2 separate regions of the Homo sapiens genome follow, and region 2 is linked to region 1. Evidence: fine-mapped expression QTL. A gene starts in region 1. The other region holds a variant in brackets. All regions are shown on one strand. Distances are from middle to middle. Region 1 holds the start of MCOLN2 (mucolipin TRP cation channel 2). Region 2 overlaps MCOLN2 (mucolipin TRP cation channel 2).

The links.
Region 2: its variant is fine-mapped to the expression of MCOLN2 in spleen (GTEx, PIP 0.99).

Annotation. Positions count from the first base shown.
Region 1 is chr1:84,994,739-84,999,134 of GRCh38, forward strand. MCOLN2 (mucolipin TRP cation channel 2) reads right to left here and starts at 2,375. Exons shown (of 14, transcript NM_153259.4): 1 at 2,058-2,375. The coding sequence starts at 2,134. RefSeq lists enhancers at 858-917, 3,238-4,109 and silencers at 1,718-1,767, 2,378-2,667.
Region 2 is chr1:84,932,947-84,937,342 of GRCh38, forward strand. All of the region lies in intron 11 of MCOLN2 (mucolipin TRP cation channel 2), which reads right to left. Among named protein-coding and RNA genes, the nearest start is that of LPAR3, 42 kb to the left of the region's middle. The variant C/T (reference allele first, on the strand shown) is at 2,306.

The sequences.
Region 1 (4,396 bases):
TGTTTTGCTTCCTTATCATTTGTATTTTCACTGGAGTAGCACTTATAATTTCCTTCAAGAACATCTCATATGCATTCAAAACTTGGCTAAATGGCACAAAATGCCTAGCTTTTGGTCTGTCTCAGCTTTCAACATACCTTCCTCACTAAGCTTAATCACTCCTACCTTTAAAGTAAGAGACCTGTGATTGTCCCTTGCACTCAAACACTTAGAGACCACTGTAGGGTTATTAGTTGGGCTAATTTCAATATTGTGGTGTCTCAGGGAATAGAGAGGGTTGGGGAGAGGAAAAGAGATAGAAGAATGGCTGGTCGGTGGAGTAGTCAGAACACATACAACATTTATTAATTGAGTTCCCTGTCTTATATGGGCACAGTTCATGGCACCCCAAAACAATTACAGTAGTCACATCAAAGATCAGTGGTCACAGATCACCATAACAGATATAATAATAATGATGAAAAAGTTTGAAATATTGAGAGAATTGCCACAATGTGACATAGAGACACAAAGTGAGCACATGCTGTTGGAAAAATGGCACCAATAGACTTGCTGGACACAGGGTTGCCACAAACCTTCAATTTGTAAAATAAAATAAAATTGAATTAAATGCAGTATCTACAAAGTGCAATAAAGCAAAGAACAATAAAACAAGGTATGCCTGCACTTTTTTCTATGAACCCCTTAACATGTGACACAAGAGCTCACTAAAGAGTGATTTAATTCTTCAGAACTGACACACGGAACTTAGACCCTAGGCCTTAAAGAAAACAGCCCAGCTTCAGGAAAGTCCACTTTTACTTTTACAGCCAGAAGAGTTTTCTTTGGCCACTACTTTTACTTTGAAAGCTATAGTCACAAGAAGCCATCTCTTTTTCCGCCGGTTTTAAAATTGTCTTGTTCTAGGTTTCACTTCACTGACAGAGACATAGCCAAAGAGATCAGCTTGTGAATATGATCATTCTTGACTTTCAGTTCTGTATTTCGTGCCCCTTTGCTCAAACTATGTCTCTCAGTTCTTCTCACTTGCTTCATTAAAATATTTTATATCTATTACTCTATTTTTTTAAAAAAAAACACTTTTGATATGTTCCTCCTTCACAGAAAAGAATGTGGCTACCTCAAACACTTTATTAGGATTCACTCATTTTTTATTACAGGAGGTTAAATAAAATTGGTATTATGATGGCCTCTGTATGGAAAATGTGTCGTTTTTAGAGTTCCGGCCACAGAAACTGACCTATGAACGGTTTTCTAAAGGAGAAGGGTGTGCCTGTGGAAAGTTCACGGCAACGGGAGTTTGACTCCTCTTAAGGTATGAAGAGGAAGACAGGCTAAAGTCTCAAGAAACTTCTGACTCAATAGGGGAAAGCTATCAAATTTCCCAAAAGTTGTGCGATTTTGGTTAGCACATCACAAAGGTGATGAGCAGCTCCTGAGAGTGAAACCCACATCCCATTTCTGGGGAGAACTACGTAGTTGGTTCCCTCTACATAAAATATCAGAGTCTACATCCTGACACCCATAAGAAACCTCTCCCACCTTTCTCTTACTAACCTTTTCTTCCATTCTCAGTTTACAATGACACACAATTTTGTTTCCCACAAGTACCGTTCAACCAGAGACACACACACTTACACATACGTATATATTTCATATATATATATATATATATATATATATATATATATATGTTTGGAGAGCAGGAAACGGGGGAGCCAAGGTCTGTTTGTACTCACAACTTTGGCTCAACTGTGCTGGGGTGGCTGGAGGTTTGACCACGGAGGAGGGGCCCGCTGGCAGCGCCAACCGGCTGAACTGTGCGCCTTTTCATAAAGGCCGAGGAACTGGGGTTAGCCACACTACAACCCTCCCACCTGAGGGAAAGGCCTGTTTGTTCTGGAAGGCACAGCCTAGCCTTATTTAACTAACTGCAAGCAGTTAATATAAGCATTCCCAAGGCAGCAAGCAAGCTCTAGTCTACGAAAGTAAAGCCATCGACTTTAGGAAGATTTCTCCAGTCCAGCATCCTGAAAGATGAAGCCCAGACTCCTCACCTGACGGTTAACCTGAAAACACCTGATCCTCTCTCCGGAATCCTTGCCTGGGGAAAACGATAAGGCTGCCGGGCCATGCCTCCTCCTTCAAAACTTTCCAGGGCTCTCGGGATTCGGAACAGGAAACACCGTTCACGGCCGACTCATTTCGCCCTCGCCGTAACGCGTCCGCCGAAGTTGGAGCCCTGCAAAGCGGGGTTCCCTTCTCTTACCCTTTCTGCCGGCCGCGTGGTGCGCGCAGACCCCGGCCCGAGAGCAGGCGCCGCAGTCGTGGAGTGCGGCGGGCAGTTCTCGGGCGGCTGAAAGGCGGCTCTGTGTGCACCCTGCAGGATGCGGCGCGTGGCCAGGCGCTCCCGCCCCGCCCCCAAGGGGCTGCCCCGCCCCGCCCCGCCCCGCCGCCTCCTACCGGGGACCGGAGCTTCCCCAGTTGGGGTCCTAGGGGACTTATTCCACGCTTCAGCGGACCAGCCTCCCCGCGCTCCCGGAGAAGGGGGTCGGCGACGCGGAGGCGGGGTGGGGGCCGTAGGGGATGGAACCGAGGCGCGCGCGAGAAGAGCCGAGGAAGTAAGCAGTCCCAAAAGGGGGCGGCGGTGGGGCCCCCAGGGAGGCGTGGGGCACGCCAAGGGCGCCGTGGGGCACTGACCTGTGGTGCGGCCCCCAGGACAGGCCCGAGGCGCGGTTGCACACCGGCAGGTCCAGCACCTCCATGCCTCGAGGCATGGCGCGGCCAGGGAGCGGCAGGAGGACACCTAGCGTGGGACGGCTACACCTGTCTGGGCGCAGGCCCGCCGCCCTTGCACTCTCCACCCAAGTGCCCAACGCTGCGGTACGGCCCGCTTTGGCTCGGGGTGTCTGCCGGAGAAGCGCCTTACAGAGGGACCCGGGCGGTGGGCCCTGCGGCAAAGTGGCCCACGCACCCTCCACACCGCTCCCGGGCGGCCGCACCTGGCACTCCCGGCCCTCTGGGGTTCCTGCCTTTTTCGGGGGGGTGGTGGTGAGACCGGGTCTCACTCTGTCGCCTGACCTGCGATCACTGCTGACTGCAGTCTTGAACTCCTGGACCCAAGCGATTCTCCTGCCTCCGCCTCCCAAAGTGCTAGGATTACAGGTGTAAGCCGCTGCGCCTGGCCCCTTCTTTTCTTCACTCTCTCATGCATTCATTTCTTGTTTCCACATGCATTAATTTGTCCGTTGCTTTGGTCATTCCTGTTTTGATGCTTAGGGAAACACTCACTGAGAGCCAAGCCGACCGTTGGGTACTGTGGTCTCTGGGATGACAAAGACATGGTCCTTTCCCTTGAGGACTTCACATTAAACTGACAAGTTCATTCATTCTGGCTTTTCTCTAAAGTGCACGATCATGAAAGTCTGTGACAAGGGCCATATTTCTGAGATGTTAGAAAGTGCGACCGGCGCGCAAGGAATAGGAAAAGCGAGTTGCCCTGCGCCCGCGTCGGGATGAAAGGCAGGGAGCCGGGAGGGAGCGTCAGCGTGGCCCGGCGGGCGCGGAGGGAGGGCGCACGGCCCCAGGGCTGGACTCGTAACCCCAGCGCCCTGCTGCAGCCGCCGTTGCTTTTCCCTCTTGGTGCACGAAAGGAAGACGCCTGTGGGAAATCGAACAGACAATCGGTCGCCGTTCGTGAATCTTAGAGATGAGAGTCGTCAGTACATGACCAAAAGCCGTGTTCGGCTCCTAGTGATGTTAGCTTGGTAGTTTGGACGTGGCCGACAGCCTCCTAGAGCTCGTACCCCTCCTTTTCACGAGGTAGCAGCAGCAAAGTCCGCAGTGCCAGGCTCTGTGAGTCTGCAAGCGTTTAAAAGATCTCCGGGTTTAGCTCAGGCAAAGAATATTCTGCCAGGTAATTATTTTAATATGCGTGTCCAGGCAGAAGCAGTTGGACAGACGATGTATATAAAAGCACACATAATTGACCCTCTTTTAAGGCACTTCCAAGGGGTTATTAGGCAGAAATGCCTTGGTTTTGAGCCCCTTTCATCGGAGGTGCGCAATCATCCAGCTTTGTGAATAGTAACTGCACTCCAGCCTGGGCAACATAGTAAGACCCCAACCTTTTGGCACCAGGGACTGGTTCCATGGAAGATGATATTTTCCACGGACAGGTGGGGGGATGAGGGGAGGATGTTTTCGGGATGAAACTGTTGCACCTTAGATCAGTAGGCATTAGAGTCTTATAAGGAGCACACAACCTGCAACTTAGATCCATCGCATGCGCAGTTCACAGTAGGGCTTCTGCCCCTATGAGAATCGAGTGGAACCGCTGCTCTCTTGCTCAATGTTCACTTCCTGCAGCGCGGCTTGGTTCTTAACAGGCCACAGA
Region 2 (4,396 bases), 62 kb before region 1:
AAATCTAAACCAAGAAGGTTGTGATAAGTTCCTCCTTTATGCAGCCTCATCACATCTCCTCCTTGACAGTATTAATATGCTGTGCTTATCTTCTCCTCCAACACCAGGCCCATCCCTACATTTTTCCCTCATGGAATTTATTCTCCTCACCTGCTCTATTCTTCTTTCTCTTCTCTGTGTCCAATTAAGCCAATGTTCAAGGGTCATTTCAGAGTGTACTTCAAGACCAAGTGCCCTGGTAGTTCTAGTCCTTTCTCTGCACTCCGTATCGGTAAGAATCACAGAATGAACTATGGTCTTCTAATTGTTTTTATACACACTTCCCTGTACTCCAACTAGATACAAACACCGTGCCTTACACTACCAGCCACGTGGCTGGACCAGGCAAGGTAAAGTTGGTGGCCAAGGGAGAAGGTCTACAAACGCACCCCAAACAAGGATCCCACCCATGGCTTTGCTGCATCAGCAAAAACTCTGATGAACTAAAGTCCTCCTCCAAAAAGACCTAGAGGAAATATCCAAATGAACAGATCACTTAACAATATGTAGATTATTTAACAGTAAAACAGGCGATTGCCAGAGTAAATATTTTCCATACGCTACACAAGCCTTAAAACATTGAAGTTAAAGCTGAAAACATTGACATTAAAGTTGGTTTCTATGGATGTCAACTACAACTCTGACAGCACCATTAATAATTCACATTTCTTAGTTTCTTTTGGAATCCAGTCAACTCCTTTCTCTAGTTTCAAGAACCCCTAACTCCAAGCACAACTGTCTGTGCTTCAGGTTTCAACTGCAAATAGCTAGTTTGTCAGTACATGTCACATTCATTTTTTAATTTTCTGTTTAGTTACTTACCAGGCTACACACAATATCTGTCTCAACATTAACATTATTCATAACCATTTTACCTCCCCCTCCTCTTGTGAACATGAGAATTATTTTAACACACCAAAGAGTTAAAACAGAGACCCAGTCAATTTTAGGTGTTTGGTAACACCCTGCCATTTTGTACAAGAAGTGGCTGTGAACCAGAGTCTATTTCAGTGGCCAAATTCCATAGTAGAAGTGAGCTTAAAAATACTCAAGGTCCTAATGTGCTTCCAGTCTAGAAGGACCACATTTGTAAGGCATTCCTTTGGATCTTGAGTGATCATAAGCCCCTGGAAAGCAGGTACTACTCTCTCTCTGCTTCTTGTTTGTTCAAAACAAACTTTTTGGGCACCTACCATGGTCTATGTGCTGTGCTGGACACTGGGAATGTAAAGAGGAACAAACTACAGTTCCTTCCCTCCAAGAACTTGGTCTACAAGAACCTAGCAATGTTGGGTGCACAGTAGATATTTAATACGTATTAAATGGGTATTTCCATAAAGAGTCCCCATAGGTTCTCTGGGCCCACGATGAGAACTCAACCATTCATTTCACAAATGATAAGTTTGCAGTTGGGCCAAAAACCTTTAATTTCAATGAAACCATAACCTGCAATGGCTTATGTCAGAGAACAACATAAATATTTGCTTTAAGAGCTGGTGCCAAGAATCTCATGCAAACTTTAGGCAAAATGTTTTAGCTGAGGGGTACTTGGCTAAAACCAGAGGGCTTGGAAGGAGGAAAATGTAATGCAGAGTCTGCTGAACTTTGACCCATGGCATCAGTGAAGTCCAACAACTTTTCAAGTCTTGGTCTTCTCATTTGTAAAATGGGGACAATGCAAGGCTATGATTTATTCCTCACAGGAAAAAAAGTCCTCTGGAAATGTAAAAGCCGCATTAGAGTAATGTTTAATAATTCAAGATGAGGTCTGGAAGAACATCAACAGTCTCTCACCCTCTGTGCCCAGGCATTTTGAAAGGGCACTGTGCCAAAGTCCATTAGTGCTGGGAATACACATCAGCAGGAAGCCTTTTGCATCTTGACTCCCTTTCCATTGAGCCCCTGAAATCAGATGCCTAACAGGAAGATAGGAAGCTGAAGTGTTATGGGACCCCAGCTATCAGTCAAACGGTTTTCCTAATGTCTCCTTTTTAGTTGTTTTGTTTTAAAGAAAGAATTAGCTTTCACAATCAAGGTTGCTGTGATTCTAAAAATCCCACAAAAATGCCCGCTTGGAATGCCTAGCTTTTCAAGGCTTCAGGTAACCTGAAAGTCCTCTGATTCAGATACTGGCAGAACCTGAACATGCTGACAGCTTGGATTAATTTGGGGGAAAGGATGCAAGGGGCAATAAAATATTCTAACTTCAGATTCAAAGAGGCAGCAATATGGTGAAGAAAAGCACAAAGTTCCAAAACCAGACTGA[C/T]GTTCTCTCCCCCAACTGACTTGTACATTCAGTGAATTAACTCAGCTGTGTATTTCCCCAATATATCAGCCTGGTGAGAGATGCCATAAACAGACCTGCAGGCAACCCTACAGACATCCCTTATCCCTCCCCTCCTCCAGGGGTATAAAGGAAAGCTAACATTAAGTGAAAGACATAAGTCTAGAGCTGCAATGTCCATAGTGGTAGTCACCAGGAATGTGTGAATAGCCAGCATCCAATAGATAGCTAGTCCAAATTGAGACGTGCTATGTGGATAAAATATCCACCAGATCAAAAAGACTAGTATGGAGGAATGTAAAATATTTCAATATTTTATACTGAATACATGCTGAAATAATATTTTGGGTATATTAGGCTTAAAATATATAATTAAAAATAATTTCATCTGTTTTTTTATTTCTTCATGTAGCTACTAGAAAATTTTACAGTATAGGCAAGGCTCTCAATTGTAGCCCAAACTGTATTTTTCTTGGACAGTGCTGGCTCAGAGCATCCCAGTTTCACCTGGATCCTTTGAAAGGACAAATTGAACATATGGAAATGCAGTCAGGCTCACAAAACAAATAACCTCATTTTCCATGAGGTGACCTTGACACCATTGAAAGAATGAAGCCGATTACATGGCTGTCCTCTCACAGTTGATCTCCAAGTACAAGACTGTTTCTTGTCAGGCTAAATGCTCTCTTGCAATGATCTGTTTTAGATAATACCAAGAAAAGCTCTACAGGGTATGGGTCAAAGCACAGGTACTGGAGTCAGGCCGACCTGGGTTTGAATCCCATCTCTGCCACTTTCTAGCTGGGTAATCTCAGGAATATTATTTAATATATTAAGGTGCCTATTCTCTGTAACAGGACAATCAGATTTCTTCACAGAGAAGGGGAGGGAAGGGTTAACACAGCAAGGGAGATGAAGAATCTTGGGCACCATGCCTAACAGACAGCACTTGAGAATGGTAGCCATCTAGTAAAATTCTAGCAATCTTATCTGAGCACCTTCCAGAATAATGATGAGGTAGGGGAGACGGGGATGGGGTGCAAAGGAGATGGGACCACTTGTCCACAGACCTTGGAGTCAGTGAATTAAAGCCGAATCCTCAGGAACGGTATTTATTCCACACAGTGCAACACTGCCCTCTAGTGACAAAGAGGTGGAAAAGCTTTCAGAGCATGAGGCAAGCAAGGAAGAAAAATACATTTTTCCAGGCTCTAAGACAGTAAGTTCTCCAAATCAGAGAGATCATATCAAAGAATAATTTTTTCTCATGAGTCACCTTTAAAGCAGTGACATGGAGTATGAAGAGCAATATTATCAAGATTTACTACCAACCCAGAGGTTGTCACTTTGTTAATTATATAATATCTCAAATAGGAAAAACAGTAATTCTCTCTAGACATATTAAATGTGACACCTAAAAAGAAGAAAGTCTGAGTGTTCCAGGTTACTCGACATTATTCTGGTAGGACAGCACGGAGGTTTAAGATTCATGTATAACAGTTTGTAAACCAGATTTGATCACAGATTTGGTTAATGCAACTAACAAGGTCAAAACTTAAGGCTGAACTGGTATACAAACTTGGAAGGAATACTTACCATTTTTAACCTCTTTTCTCCTTGCAGAGCACCTAAGTGAGGCTAACAGTACCCTGGGTTGTTGTGGGGAGTAAATAAGAAAGAACACCGAAATGCCCAGCAGAGTGTCTAACACACAAGCAGTAAGTGTTAGCTGCTGCTATTTTTGTTGTTTCTGTTGTTCCAACTGCCACAGGCCCAAATGGAGGAAAAGCCATAAGATAAAATAACTCCTTTTACTTTTTTGGGTTAAAACCAAGGCTTACCTAGTTTCATTTCCTGATGCATCTACCAATCAAATGTATCATTTTATAACAAGAACATCTTAGCACAACTTTGATGTCCCTGAGATTATAATGCTAACTGAAGTTTGGTAATAGTTTAGAATTCAGATACTGATCTTTAATAAGGCAGAAAGATGATGCTGTAATCAAAACCGTCTGCAGAGACAAGACGTGTCACCATTTCTATCGTAAACCTACTATGGTCGTTTTAGGC